Regions from separate parts of the Homo sapiens genome. Here region 1 is linked to region 2. The links come from fine-mapping of genetic effects on gene expression. A gene starts in region 2. The other region holds a variant in brackets. All regions are shown on one strand. Distances are from middle to middle. Region 1 has its middle 28 kb from the start of ZNF627. Region 2 holds the start of ACP5 (acid phosphatase 5, tartrate resistant).

What was found. PIP is the estimated chance that this variant, and not a neighbour inherited with it, causes the effect.
Region 1: its variant is the best candidate, but not a certain one, in a credible set for the expression of ACP5 in sun-exposed skin (GTEx, PIP 0.87).

Annotation. Positions count from the first base shown.
Region 1 is chr19:11,622,724-11,628,095 of GRCh38, forward strand. No RefSeq gene overlaps it. Among named protein-coding and RNA genes, the nearest start is that of ZNF627, 28 kb to the left of the region's middle. RefSeq lists an enhancer at 915-1,415. The variant C/T (reference allele first, on the strand shown) is at 3,098.
Region 2 is chr19:11,575,000-11,580,371 of GRCh38, forward strand. ACP5 (acid phosphatase 5, tartrate resistant) reads right to left here and starts at 2,646. Exons shown (of 5, transcript NM_001611.5): 1 at 2,594-2,646; 2 at 2,058-2,318; 3 at 1,717-1,844; 4 at 1,244-1,589; 5 at 1-253. The coding sequence starts at 2,318. The coding sequence ends at 11. It overlaps LOC124904638 (a long non-coding RNA gene), which reads left to right and starts at 250. Exons shown (of 2, transcript XR_007067140.1): 1 at 250-354. RefSeq lists enhancers at 2,132-2,744, 2,745-3,356, 2,826-2,965 and a silencer at 3,916-4,105.

The DNA.
Region 1 (5,372 bases), 48 kb after region 2:
GAAACCCCAGAGGTCGTTATTGTTTTGGGACCTTTTTGGAATCACAAATACTGGAGAATTCCAGGGGCTAACTGACTTTTCTTTTTTTTTTTGAGACAGTCTCGCTCTGTCGCCCACGCTGGAGTAAAGCTCTGTCTCCCGGGTTCATGCCATTCTCCTGCCTCAGCCTCCCAAGTAGCTGGGACTACAGGCGCCTGCAACCATGCCCAGCTATTTTTTTTGTATTTTTAGTGGAGACGGGGTTTCACTGTGTTAGCCAGGATGGTCTCGATCTCCTGACCTCGTGATCCTCCCGCTTGGGCCTCCCAAAGTGCTGGGATTACAGGCGTGAGCCACCGCGCCCGGCCTGCTAACTGACTTTTCTATATGTCCTGTGTTCAATTGCTCTTTTACCAACAGATGAAGTTCATCTAGCTTCTTTTGTGATAGGGGCCATTGATCCACCCACACAGGTTTGTCACTGAGCCATTCTAATGGTAAGGCAGTGGGCAAAGGAGAAATATCAAATATCAATGACCCCCCCGTCAGAAATCCTTGTGTCCTAGCCCTTTTCTATCTGTTTTTCCAGTTACTGATATCGGGTTAGGATTTCATTGTAGAAATTTCCCTAAACCTTTTTCACTCTGATATCCCATGTTCTTCAACATTTTAAATCCTGGATTATCAAAGTTTTCATTTGTAAGTCTCCTATCCCATGCTGTAAGTCTCGACCCCATAAATTGATGGCTATATTTGCAACATAAGGCTGCAAAGTCCAGAGCAAGCTTAAAGTTGTAAAAGTTCTTTAATAAATAAACAGAGTAACCTGATAGGACGGGCGCGGTGGCCCACGCCTGTAATCCCAGCACTTTGGGAGGCCGAGGCGAGCGGATCACGAGGTCAGGAGATCCAGACCATCCTGGCTAACACAGCGAAACCCCGTCTCTACTAAAAATACAAAAAATTAGCCGGGCGCGGTGGCAGGTGCCTGTAGTCCCAGCTACTCGGGAGGCTGAGGCAGGAGAATGGCGTGAACCCGGGAGGCGGAGCTTGCAGTGAGTGGAGATCGCACCACTGCACTCCAGACTGAGCGACAGAGCGAGCCTCCGTCTCAAAAATAAATAAATAAATAAATAAACAGAGTAACCTTAGCTCTCTGAGTGCTAGTAAACTCAGATCGAGTGATTGAATTATGTGGTCTCTACTAGCCTGCTGCTTTTCCATGTTTACCAGACCCATCAGTAAACCGTGTTAAAGCCTTAGGTATGGGGGAGTGAAATACCGCTTCGAATTGCCTTTTACTTAAACGAATCCTGATGATATGAGGGTCATAACTTAGCATTTGGACTGCATTAATCATTAAGATTGCTAGCTGAAATAGTAATAAGTTTAAAAAGAAAATCTGAACGCGTCTCTAGAAGCAGAGACTTAAATGATATACTTTAACCATGTGCTTAAAACCACGGGCGGAATAGCTTAAATCTTGTAATTGAGTTTTTGGGCTGACCAAGTTTATGGACTTTAATCTGGCAAACAGTCTTGAAAACAGTGACTCACTGGCTGGGGAACTCAATTTAGGACTCTTTTAGCAAGTACAAATCACACTATCTGTAATCAGTGGGTAAGACAGTCATTCATGCATAAGTTTTCACTACACTTACAACTTTTCTTCACTTTCTGAGAAGGACACAACATTTTTACCTTCTAATTTGACAAATATCATTTAATTAGGTTTAAAGTTCTCCTTTAAAGGGTAATGTGTGGTTTTACATGCCTAGCTTTTAATTACTCATTAATGAATTCGTGGGCCCTCTGTAATCTCTTTCCCTTCAGAGGTTACTGTTTTACTTAAATTGAATTTGGAAAGCTACCTTAGGGGTAGGAGAGAGATAACAGTGGCCATTATTAGAAAAGAGGTTTTTCAAATTCTTACATTTTACTTAAATCTTAGCAGAGAATCATAGTCTGGGACGTACGTAACACATGAACTTTTGCTATGGGCTGCTCACAGAGCCAGAGGGCTGCGGTGCAGGTCCTTGGCGGCGGCCGCATTGTACTTGCTCAGGTTTTGCCTGTGTCTGCGCCGCTCCCTCCCTCCTTTGCCGGGGGTGGGGCATGCTGCCAGCCTGGGCGGACCTTGTGGGCTTGGTCGCTGCCAGCTTTTCTGCTGCTGAACCTTCTATTCCGCCCACCGCTTGCTTGGTCGCGCGGTTTCGGCTTCTAATGCCTTTTTTCTTTCTTTTTTTTTGAGACGGAGTTTTTGCTCTTGTTGCCCAGGCTGGAGTGCAATGGCGCGATCTCGGCTCACCGCAACCTCCGCCTTCCAAGTTCAAGCGATTCTCCTGCCTCAGCCTCCCGAGTAGCTGGGATTACAGGCACTTGCCACCACGCCCGGCTAATTTTGTATTTTTAGTAGAGACAGGGTTTCTCCATGTTGCTCAGGCTGGTTTCGAACTCCCGACCTCAGGTGATCTGCCCACCTCAGGTGATCTGCCCGCCTCAGCCTCCCAAAGTGCTGGGATTACAGGCATGAGCCACCTCGCCCGGCCTTTCTTATCTTTTTACAGACATACACCTGCTTGCCTTGCCGATTTTGCATTACTGAGCAGGTTAAGAGCTCTCCTTCTAATGCTGCCTGCTCAAGACAGGGACTGATAGCTGTAGCGTATCCTCTGTCCTTTTTCCTATCTATTGGAGGAGGAGGCTTAGGTAAGACCTCTGTTTCCTCTTTGTTATTTTTGGCCCAGTGATATTGGGGCTGAGGGAAGAGAAGGTGATAAGGCAGGTGACGTTTTCTCCTCCTTCCTCTTTTTAGGCTCTTCTGTGTGTAAACTGAGCCAGGACTGCTCTAATTAAAGCCCATAACGTTAAAGATTTTACTGGGACCTGATGCCTTTGCACCTGATGTTGTTCAAGATTTCTCCCCACTCATTCCCAGAGTTCTAAGCCTAGCGTTCCTTCTTCCGGGAACCATGGGCTTATGTACTCCATTATTGACCACACTAGTTTTTAATTCCTTCAACAACTTAAATTCTAGTGGGGTGTGTTCATGAATAAACTGCTGTGGATTATTTGAATCGGGCCTTACGGAAATAGGAAAAGTGCAAGGTCCTAAGGG[C/T]TCTCCAGCTATGGCAGCAGAGCATAAAGTTGTTTGTTTTGGGGTCTCTATTTCTGCTACTGAAGGAGGCAGTACAGATGTTTCTGCGATTGGAGGAGGCGGTATAGGCCAATTTTTATCCTCCCTCACCTGTTTTTTATTTTCAGTTGGCGCTGTGGGTGGGACAACAGATTCTTTCAGATTTTTAGACTCAGCCTGCTGTCCCGCAGAATAATAAGGAGCTAATGGCAGAAGTACAGTATGAACTAAACTCCAAGTGGAGAAAACTGAAGAATCAACTTTAAAACCTTTTTGATGAGCCTGTTTTAATCCTTCTCCTGCTCTGTCCCAATTTTCCGCATCAAGAGTGCCTGCCTGTGGAAACCATGGGTGATGCGTGAATAACCATTTGTGGCTTCTGCAGGAGGTTAGTTAGTGCCTGCGAATTAACCTGAGCTCCAGACTGTCTCAACAGAAACTTAAGCAAGTGCACATAATGTTTTTCTTCAGTAGACAAATTCTTCCCCTTGTTAACCTGATTCAGAAAACTTCCCCTTCCCAGTACTTCTTTAAAGCACTGCCCCCAGTACTTCTTTAGGGCACTGACCTTACATACGCTATCGGCAGACTCATCCCGGAGTCCCCGTGCGTCTTGTCAATTTCAGTTCCTCTACTCCAGCAGACCTTCTTCGTTCACGTCCTCATAGTCCCGTGTTTGGACTGCCGCCTGTTCGAGTGCCACTTATAGAGCTTCCGATCCTGTCGCTGTTTGGGGTGCCACTGTGTAACCTGCACGGACCTAGGGGGACTGAACAAAGGGGGGCGAACGTGGGAATAAAAGACAAGAGACAAAAGAGTATATTTGGAAGAAGGGATGGGGGCAGCACCTTGCCTCTAGTGGACAAGGGCCCCGAGCTTTACACAGTCCTCCGTATTTATTAGGCCAAAGGGATAGTGAGAAAAGAGGGAGTGATTGTCGGGTAATTGTCAGTTGGCCGTTTGGTTCTGTTTGGTTCACAGCAGGCTTGTGAGACTGCATCCTTTGGACAATAGGCACTAATTTTCTCAGTAGATAACTTCAAGGAGCCCGGTGCCAGGGAGTGATGTCCCTCAGCAAACCTTTTGGTGGCAGGGCAGTGTGAGTTTGCCCACAACCTGCATTCATGATAAACAGTTTGCTGTTTGATCATATAGACTCCTGCGGAATGCTGAGTTTGTCGTGTCCCAGCGGCCTTTGGCTCCCTGCACTGACCATCATGGAGAAACCCCGCCTCTACTAAAAATACAAAATTAGCCAGGTGTGGTTGCGCATACCTGTAATCCCCGCTACTTGGGAGGCTGAGACAGGAGAATCGCTTGAACTCTGGAGGTGGAGGTTGCGGTGAGCTGTGATCACGCCATTGCACTCCAGCCTGGGCAAAAGCGAAATTCTGTCTCCAAAAAAAAAAAAAAAAAAAAAAAAAAAAAAGAAAGAAAGAAAGAAAAGAAAAGAAAAAAGAAAAGCAACGCTGCAGTTTGTAAGTTTCAACAATTTAGAATTAAAAGTTATTTTGGCAATCTAGGACTCATTCTTCATTCTGGCTGCAGACAGAGCTATGGATAGGGAATGTCACACATATTTTTAAGGTTATGTTGTCTTTTATGTTAAATGGATAACATTTCCACTTTGCGTTTCCATATGCAATGGAAGGCCAAGGCAGCAGAATCCCTTGAGGCCAAGACTTCAAGACCAGCCGGGCAATATAGTCAGACTGTGTCTCTACAAAATATTTTTTAAATTGTTTATATAATTTATGAGATTCCAGTGTCATGCTGTCAGCTAATATTAGGAAATTAGTAGGTGTGACTATGGTATTCTGGTTATGAGAAATGCTTCAATTTATTTTATTTTATTTTTTTTTTGAGACGGAGTTTCGCTCTTGTTGCCCAGGCTGGAGTGCAGTGGTGTGATCTCAGCTCACTGCAACCTCCGCCTCCTGGGTTCAAACGATTCTCCTGCCACAGCCTCTCAAGTAGCTGGGATTACAGGCATGCGCCACCAGGCGCAGCTAATTTTTGTAGTTTTAGTAGAGACGGGTTTCACCGTGTTGGCCAGGATGATCTCCATCTCTTGACCTCGTGATCCGCTCGCCTCAGCTTCCCAAAGCGCTGGGATTACAGGCATGAGCCACCGCGCCCAGCCTTTTTTTTCTTTTCTTTTCTTTTTTTTTTTTTTTTTGAGACGGAGTCTTGCTCTGTCGCCCAGGCTGGAGTGCAGTGACGCGATATCCGCTTACTGCAAGCTCCGCCTCCCGGG
Region 2 (5,372 bases):
TCATGGGAGTTCAGGGCCTGGCTCGCCTCGGCAGCCTGGTCTTAAAGAGGGACTTGCCCGAGGCCTCGATGTAAGTGACAGTCATCTCTTTGGAGCTGATCTCCACATAGGCAAAGCCACCCAGTGAGTCTTCAGTCCCATAGTGGAAGCGCAGATAGCCGTTGGGGACCTTGCGCTGGTGCCGCTTTGAGGGGTCCATGAAATTCCCAGCCCCACTCAGCACGTAGCCCACGCCATTCTCATCTTGCAGGTACTGAGGATGGAGGACAAGGGGTCAGTGGAGACCCAGCTTTGAGCAGAGCCCTGCCTAAGGTCCAGGGCTCGATCTGGCCCTAACCACAGAGTCACCTTGAGGTATGTAACCCCTCCTGGCTTCAATTTCCTGACTTTTAGGAGTGTATTAATCCTATTTCATAGGTAGAGCACTTAGTAAGAAATTGGTGGCCAGGTGTGGTGGCTCATGCCTGTAATCCCAGCACTTTGGGAGGCTGAGGGGGTGGATTGCTTGAGCCCAGGAATTTGAGACCAGCCTGGGCAACATAGTGAGACCTTGCCTCTACAAAAAAAATGCGCAAGGGCCAGGTGCAGTGGCTCATGCCTATAATCCCAGCACTTTGGGAGGCCGAGGCGGGCAGATCACTTGAGGTCAGAAGTTCGAGATCAGCCTGGCCAACATGGTGAAACCCCGTCTCTACTAAAATATAAAAATTAGCAAGGTTTGGTGGCCCATGCTTGTAATCCCAGCTACTTGGGAGGCTGAGACAGGAGAATTGCTTGAACCCAGGAGGCGGAGGTTGCAGTGAGTTGAGATCGTGCCACTGCACTCCCTCTCAAAAAAAAAAAAAAAAGCAAAAATTAGCTGCATGTGGTGGCCCATGCCTGTAGTGTCAGCTACTCTGGAGGCTGAAGTGGGAGGTTCACCTGAGCCCGGGAGATTGAAGCTGCAGTAAGCCCCGATTGCACCACTGCACTCCAGCCTGGGTGAAAAACAATGAAACCTTGTCTCCAAAAAAAAAAAAAAAAAAGAGCTTAAAAAAGAAAGAAAGAAAGAAATTGGCAATTCGAAGATATTATTCTGGCTTTGGAGTGTTTTCCTGGTTAGACAGCAAGATTTGAGGGACAGTCTAGACATTCTGAAGGCCACAGGAGACCCTCAAACAGCAGGAGGACCCCAGCCATGTGGACATCAGCTGGGATGGGGACCCCCCTCACCCAGCTCCCACCCCACCCACAGGGCCCTCACCTGCAGATTGTGATCGTGGCCGCACAGGTAGGCAGTGACCCCGTATGTGGCCAGCAGTGGCCGTAGCTGCTTGACCAGGCAGTGGGTAGGCCCGTGCTCGGCTATGGACCACACGGGGTAGTGGCCAGCCACCAGCACGTAGTCCTCCCTGGCCGCCGCCAGCTGTTTCTTGAGCCAGGACAGCTGTGTGCGGGCCAGCTTCACGTCTCGGGGCCTCTCAGGCTGCTGGCTGAGGAAGTCATCTGAGTTGCCACATAGTGTCACTGTGTCCAGCATAAAAATGGCCACAGACACATTGGTCTGTGGGATCTTGAAGTGCAGGCGGTAGAAAGGGCTGGGGAAGTTCCTGTGGAGGGGATAGAGGTCGTGGGTGCACATCTTGGGCGCAGAAGTCCCAGGGTCAGCTCAAGCCACAGGGCCCCTGTGTCCCTGCTATGTGAGGATCTCGGAAGGCAGGGCTGAGGGTGGCTCACCAGCGCTTGGAGATCTTAGAGTATGCAATCTGGGCAGAGACATTGCCAAGGTGGTCATGGTTTCCGGCTAGCACGTACCAGGGCACTTTGCGAAGGGAGCGGTCAGAGAATACGTCCTCAAAGGTCTCCTGTAGCAAACAGATAGGGCAGGCCTCTTCCCTGGGGTCAGTGGCTATGCCGATCCTCCCACCAAGTCAGGATAAGGGAGACACTGAATGCTCCCGGCGCCCAAAGGTGCCCCATCACCTTCCCTCTGCCCTCACCAAAGGAAGGTCACTAGGTAAGGCGGCTTCTCCCCACTGCCCGCCCCCACCTCCTGCCCCACTCTGTTGGGCACAGACCTGGAACCTCTTGTCATTGATGTCTTGCACACCAGTGAAGTAAAAATTGTCCCCTAGAGACAGGATGAAGTCTGCACCCAGGATCTGCACAGTCCGAGCGATCTCCTTGGCATTGGCCATTTCCCGGGCCGTGTGGAATGGGGCATTGGGGACCCCTCCCCAGTCACCCACGGCTACAAAGCGCAGGGCAGGGGTGGCACCATCAGCCAGGGAGGGTAGCAACAAGGCTTGCAGGATGAGCAGCGCCGTCCACATGTCCATCTGGGAGAAGAGAGACAAGCATAGGTGGCCCGGGCTGTGACAAGGGCAGGGAGGCCTTGAGACCCCCGCCTGCCCTGAGATAGAGGGAGACTGCTTGCTGCAGGCTGCCCCTGCGGGAACCCCTTGGTGCCCTAATTCTCAGGACACACAAGCTGCACAAGGCTGCACAAGCTGGCTTAGGGAAGGGGGGCGCGGTCTGTGAGAGGGCGAGCTGTACCAAGATGGCCCTGCAGGCCCATTTCACCCTCCTTCCACCTAGCCTGCCCAGCACTCACCCAGGGGGAGACACAGGCCAGTCACCGGAGGCTCTGAGAGGCTGGTGGGCTCTAGAGTAGAACTGCCGGTCCCTGAGCCTTTATTCCCTGAGGAGGAAGTGGATCATTAGTGAGGATGATGCAGTTTCTCCGAGGGCTGTCCCGGGAGCCCTCCCCTTGGGTCATGTGAGCCCTGGACTTCCCTGGAGCAGGACACGGGATTGGGGTGGGGGTGGGAGGATCTGGGCACACGTGTGCAGCAGCCTCGGCCCACACAGCCTCCGGGTGGACCTGCAGGGGCCTGTTTGTGCTGTAGGCTTGACACGTCCAGGTATCTCTGTGTGTCTGTGTATCTCAGTGTGAGTGTGTGTGTGTGTGCACACTTGAGAGGCTGTGGCTGTGATTACCCAAGACACATCTCCTGCACCTTCTTTCTCTGAGTAAGGGCTTACCTGTGTGTGTCTGGGTGTGTCTTGCTTCCTGCGTGCAGCTGAGCATGCCTACCTGGGCCTCGGCTCTGTACCTGATGGTGTTGCTGCAGACATGTATGCTGAGCCTGCGAGGCCTGTGTGGCTTGTCTGCGATGCACGCCTGTGTTCTCACGTGGCACTGGGTGGGAATCCCTATGGATGGAGTTTTGTGTGTGTCCATGTGTGTGTGCCTGGGTTGCATCTCTAGGATGGGTTGCGTGTCTGGTGTGGGAGCTGTGTTTGACAACATCTGGGTGGGGGACTCCGCGTGTGTCCCCGTCCTCCCCCTGCCCTCTCTCCATCCCACACATAAACACCAACGGGCTTCCCTTTTCCAGGAAGTCCTGCCCACACCCTCCCCTCCCCCCAGACTCCCATTCCTGCAGGAGGAACCAGGCAGGAGGCAGCTAGCTGGTGATAGCGCGCGTGACCACAGACCTCTGACCCTCATAGTCTCAGCAGCTGTCTGCAGGCCCTCCACGGGACCGCAGCCTGGGAGGGCAGGAGGCCCTGCACCTGCGGCCGGTCTGACCTGCTCCTCACCTCCCTGCCTGCCTCCTCCGTGCTGGGCGCCGCCGCGACACGTCCCGCGGACATTCAGGAGTCCCTTCAGTCCCTGCGAGCGCGGACCCGGGAGAGAGCTCTCATTCAACGCTGAGGCCACTGGCTCACAGATCTCCCCGGGTCACCCTGCGAAGTGCTTGGTCCCCCCCATTCCCAGCCCTGCAGCAGCAACAAACGGGAAGGAAGTGGGTGACGAGGACAGGCAGAGACCCCTCCCACGGGGCCGCCCGCATCTCACCTGCCGTCGCGGGGCGGGCGTTGCGGCCGGTGCCCAGCTGCAGATCCGCAGGCGATCGCACTCCTGGCGGCCCCAGCTTTAAGCAGGCAGCGGCCGATCCGCCCTGCTCGAGGGCTCAGGGCTGACCCAGGTGAGCCCCGGCGGGGAGGGCGGGCGCCTCGGCCTCCCCGCCCCGGAACCCTGCACCGCCCAGAGCCGCCACGCCTCCCGGCTGTAGGCTCCGCATCTGTAAAATGGGCCGATGAACCCCAAGGGTCGGCTCAGACCCACGGACTGCAGCTGCAGCTGGGCTAGAAGGGGTGGCCAGGGGAGCCGATTTCATCCTTTTCCTTCCTCCACGCCAACCAGGAGCCTCCATCTGCCTGGGACCCTTTGGGGGCACCCATGGGCCCACAGCCGCAGAACCACAGCACTGGGTGGGGTTTCAGCCCTGGGGCCAAGCTCTTGTGAGGTCTGTCATCATCTTCTCCTGTTGTTTTGTTTTTTTGTTTGTTTGTTTGTTTGGTTTTTTTTTTTTTGAGACAGAGTCTCGCTCTTTCACCCAGGCCGGACTGCAGTGGCGCGATCTCGGCTCACTGCAAGCTCTGCCTCCCGGGTTCTCGCCATTCTCCTGCCTCAGCACCCCCGAGTAGCTGGGACTACGGGCGCCGCCACCGCGCCCGGCTAATTTTTTGTATTTTTTAGTAGAGACGGGGTTTCACCGTGTTAGCCAGGATGGTTTCGATCTCCTGACCTCGTGATCCACCCACCTTGGCCTTCCAAAGTGCTGGGATTACAGGCGTGAGCCACCGCGCCCGGCCTGTTTTTGTTTTTTTTTTTTTTGAGACAGTTTTATTCTGGTTGCCCAGGCTGGAGTGCAGTGGCGCAATCTTGGCTCACGCAACCTCCGCCTCCCGGGTACAAGCGATTCTCCTGCCTCAGCCTCCCTAGTAGCTGTGATTACAGGCACGCACCACCACGCCCGGCTAATTTTGTATTTTTAGTAGAGACGGGGTTTCTCCATGTTGGCCAGGCTGGTCTCCAATGCCCGATCTCAGGTGATCTGCCCACCTCAGCCTCCCAAAGTTCTGCGATTACAGGCGTGAGTCACCATGCCTGGCCAGTCTCCTGTTTTTTTAAAAACTTATTATTTAGCCGGTGTGGTGTCTCACACCTGTAATCCTGGCACTTTGGGAGGCCGAGGTGAGCGGATCACTTGAGGTCAGGTGTTCCAGACCAGCCTGGGCAACATGGCAAAACCTTGTCTCTACTAAAAAGACAAAAATTAGCTGGAGGTGCTCTCTTGAACCCAGGAGGCAGAGGTTGCAGTGAACTGAGATCATGCCACTGCACTCCAACCCAGGAGGAGGAGGTTGCACTGAGCCAATATCATGCCACTACATTCCAGCCTGGGCGACAGAGCAAGACTCTGTCCCCCCCAAAAAAAAAACAGAAAAAAAAAAAAAGAAAGAAATCTGAAGCAATTATGACCAAATGTTAACATCTGTTTCTTCACGTGGTGGGTACAGGCGTGTTTTGGAAGCTTCTA